Homo sapiens: one gene and its partner. The protein of the gene in region 1 purifies or fractionates together with the protein of each later gene. This does not show direct contact. Each region holds a gene or a part of one and is shown on either strand. Other genes may lie near its edges.

Region 1 (9,333 bases):
GCCTAACTGTGAGCATCCAGTCACCTTCTAACAACTCTGAAACTTGGCTGTGTCAAACCAGTACCCAGATGCCAGGAGTTCCTTTCTTCTTTCTTACCACACATGCTAAGTCATTACAGGTAAGAAAAAAATTCTGTCAGTTGATAGGAGAGTTTGGCAGAATCAAACTGAACATTTGTACCTAGTAAGTATTGATTAGTCTATCCATATTAGAGAAATCTCTAGTCTTTAGTATTATGCCCAAAACTAGTGTCTTATTTAAAAAAGAAACTGAAATAAATAGGAAGTCTAGTTATTAGTAGGAGCACAAGGAAGTATTAGGTAAAATCTGAAGTGTCTGTCACTTGGATTGTCTAAACAATGGACAACCGCCCCATAGCCCATAAGAAATACCATTTTTATGTTGCTCATAGTTATTTTTTATTTGAAAGAAAATAAACTGATTAGAGATAAAGGGGATATCGTAGGCAAGGTAAGTAGTTGGATGAAATCACAGGAAGCATGAATAGTTGTGACCAATTGCAGAAGACTCAAGCTGATTCCATCTCAGGGACACACTCTACCATTCGGGAGATCCCCAACCCATTTGGGTAAAACTGCAAGAGAAAAAAATATTGTCAAGGGGCTTCGACAAAGGATGAAGAATGTGGATTTATTCTTCAGAATCTGAAGGAACTAACAAGTGTCAAATGTCAACTAAACTCAGGGGATTCGAAAGGAACATGGGATTGTTATTACGGGAAGATAAACAACCAATTTCTGTCCTTAAAGATTTTGGAAATATAGCCTTAGACGGAAGCCCAGGTAGGTTGGAACTTTAGAGAGAACTAGAAGAAAGTCAATACGTATGAGTTTTCCTATAATATGGCACAGAGATCCAGCCTTCTTCTGGTAAGAGAGAAAAGCCATTTTCTCACTCACAGTCTACTTTACAGATTATTGACAGAGTTCCAAGCACTGATTCAGACATGAAAAAGTATAAAGCAATATCTGAAGAAAATTTCTTAGGGACTTTGATTGTATGGGTGTAATTTGAATCCTTTTTCTTTCTGCCCGTGTGCTCAAAGGAAAGTTTCTCATTGTAACTCTCCATTTGTTTGAGTGCAATTTCCTTTTTCTTTCTGCCTGTGTGCTCAAAGGAAAGTTTCTCATTGCAACTCTTCCATTTCCTCATCTTTAAAATGTTTACTTCATAGAATGACTGTGATATTTAAATTATAATACATATGTAAATTTTATGACACAGTTCCTGGCATATGTTCCGATTGAATAAATGTTGTAATCAATACTATGTGAAAGTTAAAGGTCAAGAAAAAGTGAACCCAGAATAGGAGGAATGTACATTGATCCTCAGTGAATGTCCAAAACCCCAGAAATACCCTGAATGGCACTCAAAATAATCTGCCTCAAGAAAGATTGTAAAATCATTCATTGTTAAGCTATTTTCTATTTTGGGAAAATTCTCTAAAGGAAACAAAGATTTTACTTGATTACCTGATTTTTAAATTGCCTGATTTAAACACACACACACACACACACACACACACACACACACACTACCTGATTTAAAAAAATAATAATAATAAGCAGTTACCTAGCTTCATGGAGACACTTATTTTGGTCTTTCCAATGATGTTTCTACTAAGGAAGAGTTTTCCTTAATAAATGTCAATATTTCAAGATCCATTCAGGTAATATTGGTAACCTAGGAGTCAGGTAACCTCCTGACTCCTCTGATATTTATCTGTTGACTTGACTTAGAAACTACAAGGATTTAGAGAACAATGTAAAGAAGAGGTCTCCCTGACCTCAAAAATAGAGTCTCTGTGAGAATAGAGAACCCAAGGAATCAAGGAGCCACATAAAGGAAGCACACAGATGGAGGAGTCTTGCTACCTGGAATGTCTTTACGAGCAGTGGTAGAAGCAGCGGTGGTTGCAGTGGTAGGAGCAGCAGTGGTTGCAGTGGTTGCAGCAGCAGTGGTTTCAGCATCAGGGGCTTCATCATCAGCAGGACCAGCTGAAATTAGAAGGAAAAGCTCTAGGTGAGACTGACTCCTTCTGGAACAAAATTTATCCCACCCAGGGGTAGACATACATTCCTCATCCTGAATTCATCTCTGCAAATCTGTCATCAGTTCTGTCTTACCTTTAGCCTACCTGCCTACTTTCCTTGTGCTTCATCCTTCCCTGTCTTGTCTTTGCTGGGACAGAAAGAATTTGGGGTTTCCCTCCAAGGGCAATGACACTGATTAAAGAGACAAGCAAGTACTTTGTCCCAGGTATGAGCACAAAAGACCAAGGCCACGAGTGTTCCTATTCACAGGGACTACTGCTCAGAAGCAATAAGGAAATCTCTAGTAGCCTGACATTCTGAAGCCGTCCCACAGAATAACCTAAGACAGCATACATTCCAATGTAGCATGAATGAGGATGAGTAAAGGGATGAACTCTAGAGGGAAGGAGGAGGCAGACTAAGAAGACGTATCTCATCTTAGAGTCATATCTCCTGTCTTAGAGTGCAGTAAGATATCTTCTATCAGGTTCTAGAATGAAAAGAGCCATATTTGTCTCACCCTCTGTGGCAGCTTGGACTCTGTTTATTAGAGAGGTAATTGTGAGAGCCACATTAGATATAACAGGAGAAATTAATACACTTCTGATAGTAAAAAAATTCCCCATTAATTACTATATGTACAAAGGGGACTGGGTAAGAGTTTTGAAAATTATCTCTCTCTCTCTAGACCTTACACAAGAGCTATTGATAAGGATCAAGAGTCAGGCCCCACATTTGTGAGTTAGACTCACCTCAGCAAATAAGTAGCTCCACCTCCAAACCCACACTCTATCCATGCTGTCTCAGGCTTTATTTAAGAGAGAAAATATTTTTTAAATGGGGCCTCACATGGCAGGAAAAATATATGTGAGGTCTGACTAAAGCTAATGCCCTTGTGACCAAAGGATGCAAATTCCCAAGATGCGAAGGATAAAGACAGACCCCCTTAACTTGTGCATGGGCACAACACACACACAGTACAGAATGTGAAGAACACTTTGGGAGAAGCCCAAGAATGACTAAAGGCTTTGGTCTACCACCTTCGTTTTCAGGTTAGAGAAGGGAAACAAACATCAGCCTGGGAATAAGGAATATAGACCATTACAAAGAGTAAAGCTTAGAACTGACCCCTGCACTCCACATCCCACACACCACCCTCACTTGTGATCCAAATGGACTTATTTTCATATCACTTCAAATTCTGAGACCCACTGGTCTCTTTTTGACACTGGCTATATATTCAGTCCTTCCATTTATTAGAGGCATCTCTCAAAAATTCTCAGGCTACAACATCAGACCTCATGCTCTTGTGCCTTATGCTGGAAAACAATGAATAATAAGTCCACATTTGTATAAGTCTATGGCCTAGATTTCATATATTCTAAGAATGTATAAGAAATAAGCAGATTCACTATGTTTGTGGTGAATTTTAAAATCAGGAATATAGCTTTCACAGACTTTTGCTTAGGATTCCTTATAACAAAGACTATCCACATGGAAACTGGCTGTTTGACATGAGGCTGGAAGTGAAAAATGGTTATTGCTGGAAAGAGATGACATTCAAGTGCAGACTCACTAGCTGGATACGTGTCAGCTGGAGCAGCTGTTGTCGGATTCTCTGAAAGAGAAGAAGGAAAAATTAAGATGTTAGCTGAATACCAGTTTGGAGGATGGAGGTAAGAGAGAATATGGACAATATTCCAGACTTTACAATGGAAGACCCTCAGTCCTTGGTGTACCAGTTGAGGAAGAACAAGTGCACAGATAAGATAAAACCCATGAAAACCAATAAAAACCTAATATGTGGTCATTTTTCCTTTCCCGAAATAAACCTCTGATTACCTTCTTGAACATATTTTACTAACAGTAACAATAAACTTGGGTTCCAAGGTATTATTGAAGTAAGATCTGACTGAATTAAGAAGAGCCTAAGGATAACCATCTCCATCTTGAACGGTCAGTCAAAATGGTGATAGAACAAGTTAGGAGAGGTAAAAAAGCACATTCTAAGCAACCATAAGCCCACATCTTTAGAGGAGATATTTTATGTATATTCCCACAAAACTTATGTTCAGGTAAGAATCTTTACTTACGGGCAGAGACCAGAAAGATGGAAACTCCCAAGAGTACCAGGACTGCTAAGAACTTCATGGTGGTGACCTGAAGATCAGGGAGCACAGACAAAAATGCTTCAAAGCCTAAGAGAAGGCAAGGCGCTGACTTCAGGATTCCACATCCTGACAATATATATGCAGAGGGCACCAATCAGGAGCTGTCAACCAGAATCCAGGTTAGGTAATGCCAGGAAACGTTGGGACACAAACCACTGGAGAATCAACAACACAGCCAGGGGCCCTTTGGAAAGGTTGTGAATTCAAATCATTGGTTCTGGCTAAACAGGTTTCAATTCGAGTCTCTCATGTTAAATATGCTCCAGGCAACTTCTCTTCCAGGCATCCTCTTACATGTAGGGTATAGTGTCTCCATAATTACCAGCTCCTATGACAGGTTGGAGATGCCCCATAACCAGCCTTCCTGAAATCTGCAGTGCTCTTTTCATAGATTCTAGGAGTCATACACTTACAGAGTGCTTAGACCTCTGTCTCCCCCTAGGGGAATAATCAGGGTAGAGCAGCCTGATCCAAAGACCATCCGGTGTAACTCAGGCTGTGCATTCTTCGAGTCATGGCCTCCCTCCTGAACATGTAATTAGGTCATCTGACACTGGTGCAGAGTGAGTCCAACACTGAATGATCTAAAGAACGAACTATGACCTTACTGGATTTAGCAACCATTGTATAAAAATTCAAAATCAAGGAGTAAGTATACAGAATAAACTAACATTTGTTAATTCATGCATCCATTTAATCAATTTTTTCATTCAAAAAACATTCATTGAGCATTATTGTATGCCAGACACAATGCTAGATGTTAGAAAAATAACAGCGAACAAAGCACACAAAAATTTTATTTAATACATGGTTTTGCAGGAATTCATACACTAAAAAAGTAAAGAAAGAGAAAACACAATGTATTATGTGTGAGGTGATAAGGCCTAATAAAAAAAGAAGGCAGGAAAGAAGAAAGGAGAGTTTAGAGATGGAAAATGGGGAGCAATTTTATATAAGGTGACCAAAAAAGGCATTACTGAATAGGTGATATTTGAACAGACTCTTAAGGAGCTGAGGAATCAACAACGTGGTATATTTGGATAATGCAACGGAAAGGAAATGGTCAGTCTGAAGGAAAGCAATGGTGAGTGCATGTAGAATATGGTCATCCAGACTTCTCTGCAGTTGTTGAGTAGGGCCCAGCACTGCCCCAAGTTCCATCAATCTACTTGCCCTTTGTCATAATGGAGCCAAGCTGCTAAGTAAAGACAGCAAGGGAGGAAAACAATCCACATTTACAGCACAATCAAGTGCTGGACCCAACTGAGGCCTCAAAGAGGGGTGATGAACATTTGGAATACCCAGAATCATAGGGAATTCTCTACATTTTAAAGATTTCCCTTGCTTTAAAGTTCTTCTTCTTCATACAAAGTATGCCTTTTTGGGTCATACCCTCATTGGAAGGATCTCTGTAATCTGGAAGAGCACTGAACATCTATTTCTCCTTTTATTGGAGAGTCTGTCTGATAACAGCAACCAGTCTACTCCCCAAAACATGCTAAGAGGTCCCCATCAGGTGAATGAAGAAAGGCAGAGGAAATTCTTGAGGGAGTGGTCTTCAACCTCGGAAAGACAAGTCAGTGTCCTTGTCCTGGGTAAACTCATATCTTCCATGAGGCACAGAGTTGTCATAATATGGTGAGAGATTAGCATAAATAACGCTAAGAAAAAAACACATATTCTGAAGGAAAAGTGAAAGAGAAATATTTAAAAGAGATAAAGAAGGAAGGAAGACTTAAAAGACAGATACTATCTGATTATACCCCGTAGGGAATAAGCCCTACAGTCACCTTTGTAAGGCCTCCCAACAACACTGACACAAATTGAAGGGTCTTCTAGGAGACGGTTACTTATTGAGAGCCCACTGTGTCCCTCCACAGAGGCAGAGACCCACCACACAGACTTAAGACAATGACTGGCTTGCTAAGAAAAAAAGATTAAACATATGTATCAGTTAGGGTCCCCTTAAGAGATCAAAACTGCACAGTGGATTAAACAGGAAAAGTGTGATACAAAGAATTTCTAAAGTTTGATATATGAGTAGTTTTTCATCTTGAATGAATTTTTGTATAAGGTGTAAGGAAGGGATCCAGTTTCAGCTTTCTACATATGGCTAGCCAGATTTCCCAGCACCATTTATTAAATAGGGAATCCTTTCCCCATTGCTTGTTTTCGTCAGGTTTCTCAAAGATCAGATGGTTGTAGATGTGTGGCATTATTTCTGAGGGCTCTGTTCTGTTCCATTGGTCTATAACTCTGTTTTGGTACCAGTACCATGCTGTTTTGGTTATTGTAGCCTTGTAGTATAGTTTGAAGTCAGGTAGTGTGATGCCTCCAGCTTTGTTCTTTTGGCTTAGGATTGACTTGGCAATGTGGGCTCTTTTTTGCTTCCATATGAACTTTAAAGTAGTTTTTTCCAATTCTGTGAAGAAAGTCATTGGTAGCTTGATGGGGATGGCATTGAATCTATAAATTACCTTGGGCAGTATGGCCATTTTCACAATATTGATTCTTCCAACCCATGAGCATGGAATGTTCTTCCATTTGTTTGTATCCTCTTTTATTTCATTGAGCAGTGATTTGTAGTTCTCTTTGGAGAGGTCCTTCACATCCCTTGTAAGTTGGATTCCTAGGTATTTTATTCTCTTTGAAGCAATTGGGAATGGGAGTTCAGTCATGATTTGGCTCTCTGTCTGTTATTGGTGTATAAGAATGCTTGTGATTTTTGCACATTGATTTTTGTATCCTGAGACTTTGCTGAAGTTGCTTATCAGCTTAAGGAGATTTGGGGCTGAGACGATGGGGTTTTCTAGATATACAATCATGTCATCTGCAAACAAGGACAATTTGACTTCCTCTTTTCCTAATTGAATACCCTTTATTTCCTTCTCCTGCCTGATCGCCCTGGCCAGAACTTCCAACACTACGTTGAATAGGAGTGGTGAGAGAGGGCATCCCTGTCTTGTGCCAGTTTTCAAAGGGAATGCTTCCAGTTTTTGCCCATTCAGTATGATATTGGCTGTGGGTTTGTCGTAGATAGCTCTAATTATTTTGAGATACGTCCCATCAATACCTAATTTATTGAGAGTTTTTAGCACGAAGGGTTGTTGAATTTTGTCAAAGGCCTTTTCTGCATCTATTGAGATAATCATGTGGTTTTTGTCTTTGGTTCTGTTTATATGCTGGATTACGTGTATTGATTTGCATATGTTAACCAGCCTTGCATCCCAGAGATTAATTTAAGATGATTTAAAGACTTACATGTTAGACCTAAAACCATAAAAATCCTAGAAGAAAACCTAGGCAATACCATTCAGGACATAGGCATGGGCAAGGACTTCATGTCTAAAACACCAAAAGCAATGGCAACAAAACCAAAATTGACAAATGGGTTGTAATTAAACTAAAGAGCTTCTGCACAGCAAAAGAAACTACCATCAGAGTGAACAGGCAACCTACAGAATAGGAGAAAATTTTTGCAATCTCTCCATCTGACAAAGGGCTAATATCCAGAATCTACAATGAATTCAAACAAATTTACAAGAAAAAAACAAACAACCCCATCAACAAGTGGGTAAAGGATATGAACAGACACTTCTCAAAAGAAGACATTTATGCAGCCAAAAAACGCATGAAAAAATGCTCACCATCACTGGCCATCAGAGAAATGCAAATCAAAACCACAGTGAGATACCATCTCACACCAGTTAGAATGGCAATCATTAAAAAGTCAGGAAACAACAGGTACTGGAGAGGATGTGGAGAAATAGGAACACTTTTACACTGTTGTTGGGACTGTAAACTAGTTCAACCCTTGTGGAAGTCAGTGTGGCAATTCCTCAAGGATCTAGAACTAGAAATACCATTTGACCCAGCCATCCCATTACTGGGCATATACCCAAAGGATTATAAATCATGCTGCTAAAAAGACACATGCACACGTATGTTTATTGCAGCACTATTCACAATAGCAAAGACTTGGAACCAACCCAAATGTACAACAATGATAGACTGGATTAAGAAAATGTGGCACATATACACCATGGAATACTATGTAGCCATAAAAAATGATGAGTTCATGTCCTTTGTAGGGACATGGATGAAGCTGGAAACCATCATTCTCAGCCAACCATCGCAAGGACAAAAAACCAAACACCGTGTGTTCTCACTCATAGGTGGCAACTGAACAATGAGAACACGTGGACACAGGAAGGGGAACATCACACACCGGGGCCTGTGGTGGGGTGGGGGGAGGGGGGAGGGATAGCATTAGGAGATATACCTAATGTAAATGACGAGTTAATGGGTGCAGCACCCCAACATGGCACATGTATACATATGTAACAAACCTGCACGTTGTGCACATGTACCCAAAACTTAAAGTGTAATAATAAAAAAAAATGAGTAGTTATAAGGAAGTTCTATGAAACCCTAGGGTTGAGGGAGACTATCCAAGGAAGGACAACAATAAAGAGCCCTCCTCCCTGAAGCTGATATTCAGAACTCATTGGAGAAGCAGCCCTCTGGGTGGCAGAGAACAGTGCTGGTTTGCCCAAGCTGAAGCTGGTCTGCAGTTGCTGGGAAAGCAGACAATCTGCAACCAGTGGCCTGAGTGTGCAGAGGACATGAAGGCTCAGGGTGTAGGGGAGCCCCGTGGGGCCTACAACAGTTTTGAGGCTTTATTTTTCTGAAGTTATTGGATTTTGATAATATTATAATGCTTCAAATTGTAGGTTTTTAATATTATCACTTTAAGAGGGATCTAAAATTCAAGCATAAAGTATCATATGTGAGTATATAAAATATACTCAGATCTAACACCAAATTTGTTCATTAAAATGAACAGCATTATATATAGGGCATGTTATATTAAAATTAAACTGAGATCTTTCTAATATCTACATTTTGTAACATCTGTCAAATATTATGCAATATATTCTATATAAAATCATATATTGTATGTATAACCAAACTTTATCTCTCTATATATGTATACACTATATACTAGTGGATATGTAATTTTAAGAGTGAAATTCAATGGATGACATAGCTCCAAAACTTTTTACTACTGCTCTTTCCCATTACAAGATTATTTTTGTATTTTTTA
Region 2 (9,528 bases), on another chromosome or scaffold:
TCTATGGGGAAATTACTGTCTCCATCTTACAGATAGGAAACTGGGGCTTAGAGGCATCAAAGAAATGGCTCAGGGTCACGATCTCAGCCCAGGTCTCTCAGACTCCAAAGCCCATGCTCTTGACCTAAAAGCACTTAAGAAAGTATTTAAACCTGAAAGCACTTAGCCTGAGTGCTTTTCAGGCTCTCAGTAGCAGCAGTGGCACACAGAAAGGACAGAGGCCCCTCATGCTCGCTGTTTGTGGCCAAGACTCTGGAGCACTGATTAGTGATGATCGACACTCTGGATTCCCTCGGCTCTCTAACCAGAAGTCCAAGCATCACAGGGACCTGGCCAGATCCCCCGCCCCACCCAGTCCTTTCCAGTGAACCAGCCCTGGCACCAGAGCAAGGCTGGAAAAGTGGGTGTGAACAAGCCACTTACTTCAGACACCAGAAGGCCTTGAGGGGTAAGCAAGCACCTTGTGCCTTTCAGAGGCAAACCATCATTTTCCTCTGGTCCCTAAGACAAAGGCCTAGCTACTTTCCAAATCCTCCCAGTGGATGAGCAGGACAAAGTGGGAGAAGCTGAGGCCAGGATCTCATCAGTCCATTCATCTCTTGCCAGAGGCCTCCCCTGAATCTAGTGGCAACTTTGCTGCCATTCCACAAGCTGGTGTTGCTTAGAACACCATGGCTGAGGGTCCCATTCACACTTCCTGAATAAAAGAGTCTCAGAGTCTATGCTTTAAATAAACACCTCATATCTGACTGATGTCCTAACAAAGTAGCTCAGACCGTATAGGTTCAACTGTGTCCCCCTCTAATTCATATGTTGATGTCCTAACCCCCATTATCTCAGAATGTGACTATATCTAGAGATAAATTATCCCTTTAAAGGGATAATTCAGTTAAGATGAGGTCATTAGGGTGGGCTCTCATCCAACATGACTGGTGTCCTTATAAGAAGAGCAGATTAGGTCACAGATACATATAGAGGGGTGGCCATGGGAAGTCACAGGCAGAAGATGGCCAAGGGGAGGGGCCTCAGAAGAAACCAACCCTGCCAACATCTTGATCTCTGACTTCTAGCCTCCAAAATTGTAAGAAAATAGGCTGCACATGGTGGTTCACGCCTGTAATCCTAGCACTTTGGGAGGCTGAGGCGGGTGGATCACTTGAGCTCAGGAGTTCGAGACCAGCCTGGGCAACATGGTGAAACCCCGTCTCTACTAAAAATACAAAAAATTAGCCAGGCATGGTGGCATGTGCCTGTAATCCCAGCTACCTGGGAGGCTGAGGCAGGAGAATCGCTTGAACCTGGGAGGTGGAGGTTGCAGTGAGCCGAGATCATGCCTCCAGCCTGGGTGACTAAGTGAGACTGTCTCAAAACAAAACAAAACAAAACAAAATTGTAAGAAAATAAACTTCTGTTATATTGTTATATTATATTGTTGAGCCACCTGGTCTGTTACTTGGTTATGGCAACACTAGCAAACTAATACATAGGCTGAGGGGGCTCTTCAAAATCTTTATCCTCAGTTGCAAACCACCATAGCCTGCCCTGTGGACATTACTGGAGGCCCAGCCAACCACTAGCAAACCTGGACGAAATGAGTCTAGCTCTGGCTATGAAGAGCTGTGTCTCCTTCATTTATTCAAAGGGAGTGGAATAAAATGCAGACAATAAGATCTGGGCCTAAGGAGGCTGAGACAGAGAAAAAGCAACACACGGTTTAGTGCGTCGATGAAGCTGCGTCCAGAAGGACTGCCAGCAGTGACCTGATCAAGACACGTGATCAGCATATGAACGGTGGTTTTAGGGTTGAGGAAGTCAGATCCGTCTTGACTCCTACGGGCATGAGCCCAGGACATTGACCATAAAGTTTACTTCACCTCCTCAAGGTGGTCTCCAGGGGCCGCCAGCTGGCAGTTAGGATGTGCTACTGAGATCGTAACACTTACTTTTGCATCCACTCGAGAAACTTCTTCTTTGTCCTGAGCACAGGCACTGCGTATTTCTCTCCATTCTTAAAATACTTCAACGTAGGAAACTCTGAGATGTGGAATCTTTCTGCCAGGGCCTTGTTGACAGTGGCATCGACAGCTGCAAGGACACCAGAGCTCTGGGATGGGGGAAAGGCCAACCATGCATTACAGCCTCAGATGCGGTGCTGGTGGAACACAGGAGCCCAGACGCTGCCCCCACAACCCATCCTGGACCTGCTGGAATTTAACTGGGGTGGCTAGCCCAGTGGGCTCCCATATCCCAGGGAACAACTGAACATTGGCACGGCCATCATTTCTCATTTATGAGCTGAGATGAGGCTTTTGAATCTGCCCCACCAGCCACGTTGAGTAGATTGGCACCTGTTCCTGTTAGCCAGGGTCCCAGAGAAAAGAGGGAGCAGGCAGAGGTCACCTGGATGGGCACGGGAACATGGGCCAGTAGTCTTTCTGCCCCCTCTAGGATCCCATCTGTCTAAGATGTTCTACTTGGGCACACAGAGGTACTGCTGGCCTCCACGGACCACGGGAGCTGCAGCAGGGCTTGCAGGGGAAAGTCATAATGATTCCACCTGTCAGTGATTCTTTCAAAGAGAACGGTGAGGGGGAAGGAAAGGAAGCTTACATCCGCTTCTCCATGGAGGGCTTCTGCTGCCTTCTCAAACTCCGGCTTCATTTTCTTACAGTGGCCACACCCTGTGGGGAGAGATCAAGAGAAACCATTCTTATGGCACAGAGGCCCTCGGGATGCTCCCCTGCGCCGCCTCTGTAAGGCAGCTCAGTCCCATTCCCAGACACCTGAGAAAAGCAGCAGCAGCACCAGCTCAAAGAAAAGAAATATTTTGCATAATCCACCAGAAGTGGGTTGGGGTAGTGGGAAGGTACCCCAGACACAAAAATAAAACAACTGCATAAATAATACGGGCAACTGGTGTGCCAGGTACTGACCAGTGCCTTACAGCCTCATAACTACCCCACAAAGTAGGAACTGACATTATCTCCATTCTATGGATTAGACAATTGAGGCACCAAGAGGGCAGGTGACTGCCCAAGGCCATATACACAGCCATGGTCACAGAGCTGGGTTGAAAACCCAACCATCTGGTGAGAGGCCCTAGCTGCAGGCAGCGTGTAGGTTGTGGCACCATGCTGTGATCACCATCATCATCTTCTCTGGACAGAAGGCAGTCTGAGGCCTTGAGCTGGGCACAAAAATTCACAGAAGCATAAGTATGGGACATAATTACATTCTAATTGTCCCCATATGACATGATGGGAATTTTTTGGGATAGAAACTGCTCTGTCCTTTTCTTTCTTTTTTTTTTGTTTTGAGATAGAGTCTTGCTCTGTCTCCCAGGCTGGAGTGCAGTGGCGCCATCTCTGCTTACCGCAAGCTCCGCCTCCTGGGTTCATGCCATTCTCCTGCTTCAGCCTCCCACGTAGCTGGGACTACAGGCACCCGCCACCACGCCCGGCTAATTTTTTTTGTACTTTTTCAATAGAGATGGGGTTTCACTGTGTTAGCCAGGATGGTCTCGATCTCCTGACCTCGTGATCCACCCACCTCGGCCTCCCAAAGTGCTGGGATTACAGGCGTGAGCCACCGCGCCCAGCCTGCTCTGTGCTTTTCTTACAGCTGCATGAACACAGTAAGATGTCAGAAATAATAAAATTTGATGCATTAAAAAGAAATTAAGCACTTTGTGTAAATGACAGACCTTGACATTTGTACATTGTTTTCATTTTAATAGAAAGAGTACTTTCTGGCCTCTGATGCTGGAGGGACTGGGAGGTGAGGGGTCTGCAGACTGGCTCAGGATGGAGGCTGCTCAGAAGGTAAGCCTGGCTGTGCGGGGACCATGCATTAACTAGGATCAGCGGATGACAGGTCGTGACTCAACCTTCTCAGGGGTGTGCCACTGTGTGGGAGCTGAGAACGCTATAATTCTACTACTGATTGTTAGGAAAAAGAAAGACAAGAAGAAAGCAAGACAGAAAGTCAAACAGTGTAATCAGAGGAGACCTCCCACTGAGCTACGGAATCGGCTTTCCTGCCTCCAGCTGAGCACCCGGCAGGGGTGAAAGCTCCTGTCTCCTCCTCCAAGGCCATTTCTGCAGAACTCAGCTCCAGGTGAGACATGAACCTGTCTCGTTCTTAATCTCTCCATTTCACTCCTGCCTGTACCTGGCTTCCTCAGCTCATCCTCACCCTGTCCCTCCCAGGGACAAGGGACCCCGGAGTGGCTACTCCCCACTTAACTGATAACAGAAAACCAAACTGATCCTTGAGCTCCCAGGCAGTGTTGTGAAGCTCCTCCTCTGGACAGAGCACTGGAGACATGACTCGGTCAAGGGCACTGACCCTCATGGAATGCAGCCCAGGGAGTGGCTACAGTGCTTAGCCACATCAACATGTCAGCTCTTCCCAGGTGGATCCAAGGAAGAGAGACACTGCTAACCCTCAAGTGGGAGGCTCCACAACAAGAAGAGGAGGAACTGCTGGGTATACAGGCACCTCTGCTGCCATTATCTAGGGAGCTGCCTACTCCTGTTGGGCTATGATGCAGAAGAAAGGGTAGAAAAGGCATCAGCCCTTAGAATCTTCCAGCATAATGACAGAGAGGACCATGGTCTTTGGTCCAGAGGGGAATAGAGTGGCACACATGATGCCTTCAAGGGATGAACCAGAGGAAGAGCACTCCACCTGCCCTGGCAGCCCCAGGGGAGCCGGCAGCTGCTTGTAGCCCTATTACATATTGTACCCACACTACACACTCATCATGCTGGGCTCTAGGTACCAGACAGTGCCTCTCTTTTTTTTTTTTTTTTTTGAGATGGAGTCTCGCTCTGTCACCCAGGCTGGAGTACAGTGGCACACGATGTCAGCTCACTGCAACCTCCGCCTCCTGGGTTCAAGTGATTCCCCTGCCTCAGCCTCCCGAGTAGCTGGGACTACAGGCATGTGCCACCACGCCCAGCTAATTTTTTGTATTTTTAGTAGAGATGGGGTTTCACTGTGTTAGCCAGGATGGTCTCGATCTCCTGACCTGTGATCCACCCACCTTGGCCTCCCAAAGTGCTGAGATTACAGGTGTGAGCCACCATGCCCAGCCCCAGATGGTGACTCTCTAAAGGTGGGACCTGAGGTTTTTTTTTACCTTGTACCTCCCCATGAAGCAAAAGGATCACCATTTAATAGATACATGATAAATATTTACTGGTCAGCAATGAAGAGACCTAATTAAATAATTAGTAGACAACTCCTGGGTTGACCAGGGGCTTGAGAAGACCTCCTGGAGGTGGCAGATGAAAGGACACATGTGGGCAAGTTAGAGACAGAGGACAGAGGACCCAGTCAGGAGGGCAGGGGCAGCCTCAGAGAAATGAGGACGTCCCCATGCTCAATTCAGCAGTGCAGAATTCCGCTGCCAGGGCTGAGCAAGGCACATAGCCCCAAAAGTGCTCCTAAGGGCTCCTCTGGGACTGCTGAGCTCGGCCCCCCCAGAGGCTGCCCCTGGGCTGGGCAAGACAGCCTGGCTGTTCCTGGCCTTGTTCTCCACAGCAGATATTCTTAATGTCCCCTGCAGTCAGACATTGTGGAGATCATGATCAAAGTGGTAAACCCTTCTTCCAGAAAAATGCACATAGGGTTAGATGACTTTGGGAGTTCACGGTCTGACTAGACCCCACTTGGGATCCCCCCATCATAAGCTGTAGAGGTATCAAGGTCATCATTATTTTGAATGACAAGAATATCACTTTCCAGAAATGAACATTTAGCATCATCATGAGCCATGTGTTACCTAAATAATCCAGTCACAAAAGGGTTGTTTTGGTAAGTTGGCTGTTTGTTTTCCCCTCAGAAACAATTTTACACACCGATTACATGCAGATTCCCAGGGGCAACCGCAAAAGCCCATTTAATAGGATGCACCTGAAACATAAAAGCACGCAGTGCTATTTGTATTTCCCTGAGCCTGCTCCCAATGGGACAAGTGCAGCCCGCGATCCAGTGGGGACAGCAGGCAGGCCGCTCCCTCTAGGCAGCGACCCCCACCTCAGCAGTGAGAGGAAGAACTCCAAGAGGGACCAGGGAGAGCTGGGGCAGGAGTCTGTGCCTCCCAGGCACTGACATTCTTGAGATTGTCACAAAAGCCTCTCCTCCCCTTCCCCACACTGATGCATATACTCCACATGTATGTACAATTCCAGAGGGATCCTGGACTACCTGAACTTGCTCACAGAACTGGGGTTAGGAGCCCAGGACAAAGGAGACCACCGGACTCCAAGCCAATCACTGTCCAATGGGAGGCAAAGCGGAAGAACACGGAGAGCTGATGCACAGGGGCCCAGGCTTAGATGTCTTTCCACACTGGCCCACATGTCAGGAGTAAATGGAATAATCTGCAGAAGGTTCTACTGACTTAATATGAGGTATATTAAGATTAAAAAATTATTTTTTTGCTTCTCACTAAAATAGAGTGGAGTAAACCATCCTTTGGGGCCACGGTCAGGATGAAAAAGTTCTACAGCTCTTAAAGGGATCTCCCTGCCCCGGGGGCAACCCCAAGCTGCTGCTCCCTGCACCTGTCCAAGGTGAGCCCCCCACTCTCCTGCTTTCAGGCTGACCTCCCCTGACTGGGGCAGAGTGAGGGGGCTCACCCTGCATGAACAAACTGCAGGAGAAGGAAGCTCAGAGACTCTCCTGTGGCGGTGAGTCTATCGCCCGAGAGTTCAACCTGCTCTGGAGAGATGTGAGTGGTCCATGCAAAGTCCCCAAAGGTCCACTGCCCTGAGACAGACTGACTCAGCCCAGCAGCACATAGTGGAGGACACACTGGGAGGCCTCGGGAAATGCAGGCATGAGGCCCTGGGTGGCCTCCAGGGAGGTGGGAGAGGCAGGAAAGAGAGGCTCCCTTGACCACTCTCCCCATACCCTCCATGATATGGATGGTGCTGTTAGGCCAGCTGCTGGCAGGGCCCATGGTCAAGATGGACAGTGGGACTGGAGTAGGAATCAGGGGAGGGAAGACAAAGAAAAGCCAGCCATTGCCATTCACTGAGAATCACTGTTGCTTTCTAAAGTGACCCTGTTGATGTGGCAGGACTCCTGAAGATGAGAATTCACTGTGTGCTGGTAGGGAGGTTTACTTCATCCCTTTATCAGGCTCCAGGCCTTTGATGCCACTGCCCTGCCAGGGTGGCAAGTGGGTTTCATTCCACCTGCCAGCTTCCATCAGCGGTGGGCCTGAGACAGAGGCTGAGTCTGAGAACTCGCTCACTGGGAAGAGGAGCTGTGACCAACTTGCAACGTCTGCCACAGGCATGGGAAGCCAGCTGGGGTCAATACCAGGAGACCTCCAGTTTCCGCAGCTCGCACACATGGCTGTCTCCTGGGCTTTGGCCTCAGCTCCCAGAATTCCCCACCTCTATAAGGAAAGCACTCGCTGTCTGTGCTGGGCTTCCACACTCTATCGCAGCAGCCCCACCAGACACATGACACAGCTCAGTAGGTCCGTTTTACAGTGCCAGAAATTGTAGCTCTGGAAGACGAAGTGACAAATCCCCCAGGGCCATCACCACCTGCCACCTCTTCCTCCCAGCCCCTGCTCTGATGGATAGGCAACATCCACCCTGGACAACCCCTCGCAATCCTACCTTTGTTCTGGCCCCTGCTTTGAGTCTTCCCAGTTCACTGTAGCCCCATCGAATGATCTGTCTCTCTTCTAATTACAAAATACTTCTTATTCAGATATTTCTATGGCATTTAATTTTGTGTTGCTTTGTGACTGTGATATTGCTGTCTTCTGATATTTAAGGGCAGCCGGGGTATATTTTCAAAACATCAATCAGATCAGATCCCTTTGCTTAAAACTTTACAGTGGCTTCCTATCACAGGTAGATTCAAATCCAAACTTATTATGGCTACAGACCCCACACAAGCTGAGTCCTGCCTACCTTCAACCTCAACTCAGGTCACTTCTACTGCAGCCTCTGGCTCTCCTCTTCTCCCAACACACCAAGTTCATTTCTACCCCAGGGCCCTGGAACATGTTCTTTCCTACCCACCTGGAGCATACATACCAACATCTTCCCCCAGGTCTGTATGCGGCTTACCCCTCTTTACATCAGCCACTCAGGCTTCCACTCAAATTTCACCTTCTAGGAGACCCTCCCTGACCACCTATCCCAAAGGCGCCTCATGCTATCATGCCCTCTCCCAATATCCTGTTTTATTTTCTCAATTGTACTCAAAGCAGCTGGAGTAATCTGCTCACTTGTTCCCTGCCCATCCCCTCAACTGGAATGGAGGCTCTGTATGTGCAGGCAGGGGCTCGGCTGTCTTGTCTAATTGGCCACCATATTCCTGATACTGACCACGCTGCTCCACACGCTTTCTGAATGAATTAGCCTCATGACTTGTTAGGTTGTTAGGTTTACACCTGTACACACAAGGTTTGGCAGGACTAAATTCTTTATGGGCAAGGGTCATGGCTTGCACTCAAATAGTCGTTAATTTGACTAAACACCTCTAATTAGTAGAACTGGCAACCAAGCCAGTTACTATGCACATCCCCTCTCCTCTCCTCCCCACTACCATCTTTGCGCCTCCTCTGCACCTCACTAGGAGAAAAGTGTCTCCCAAAATCTCTAACATCTAAGGATGCTGTTCTAAAGTTTCCCATACATACCCTAGAATTCTCTTGATATTGTTAAGGTTTTCAATTCTAGCATCAATTCCCTCTGACCCTGAATAAGACACTAAGGCTAAGCAATAAACTTCTGCAAACAGAGTTTAAGATGAGGAGCCTGGCCAGGCCCAGAGGAGGAGAAAGGTCTGGCTGAGAAAACACCTCCCTTCCAGACACCCTCCTGTCTTGGGGAGCCGTGGGTGATGGATAGAGCTGGCGGTGACCTGAGGACCAGCCTCCTGGGCCTGGCCTTCATGATGTCCCTGGCTGTGGGACAGTTGGAGGAGGAGGGTTACATGCAGGGAGCGGGACTCCGGCCCACTGCATTTTGTGTCCTGATTGTGATTTGAGAGGCCATTAAGTTTTATTGCTAAACTTCCTTGTTGGGCTTTTATCATCTGTGTAAGTGCACTTACTCCGATTTCCGTGATCTGGCATAGAGGTCTGCACATCAACTCCTTGATCATGCTCTTTTCTGGCTGTGGGAATGTTGGCTTCCTGTCAACCCAAAGCCCTCGGATTCGTCTGGATTTCATTAAATTCAATTATACTTATGATTTTACTACAGGCCAGCTATAGGGCTTTCCTGGATGCTGGAACCAGAATTTCCCAGAGGACCAGATTAATCTGTAAAGCTCCCTGGTAGCCAGGGTACTGGGGTAGTACTTGGGCCTCTAGAAGAGCCTGGTTCCTGCCTTGCTTGGAATTTGGCTTGGGGCATGCCAGGGAGGGAGGGTTTCCTACAAATGCCAGCAGAAATACGGGCGTGGAGGGGCCTACAGAGACCTCAGAGCTCTTTTAAGGCTTCCAAACGCATAAGCACCAAAGTGGACTCCTTGACAGTTACAGGC

The links.
Region 2: the proteins of MUCL1 (region 1) and PDIA5 purify together in Homo sapiens (co-immunoprecipitation; 3 studies listed by BioGRID and IntAct, with this or other methods). This does not show direct contact.

The regions. Positions count from the first base shown.
Region 1 is NC_000012.12:54,849,456-54,858,788, reverse strand, and holds MUCL1 (mucin-like protein 1 precursor), read right to left. Parts: upstream 4,274-9,333; 5' UTR 4,207-4,273; coding exon 4,149-4,206; intron 3,674-4,148; coding exon 3,632-3,673; intron 2,020-3,631; coding exon 1,897-2,019; intron 597-1,896; coding exon 547-596; 3' UTR 402-546; downstream 1-401. UniProt on the Homo sapiens protein: May play a role as marker for the diagnosis of metastatic breast cancer.
Region 2 is NC_000003.12:123,138,675-123,148,202, reverse strand, and holds part of PDIA5 (protein disulfide-isomerase A5 precursor), read right to left. Parts: intron 2,682-9,528; coding exon 2,611-2,681; intron 2,105-2,610; coding exon 1,944-2,104; intron 1-1,943.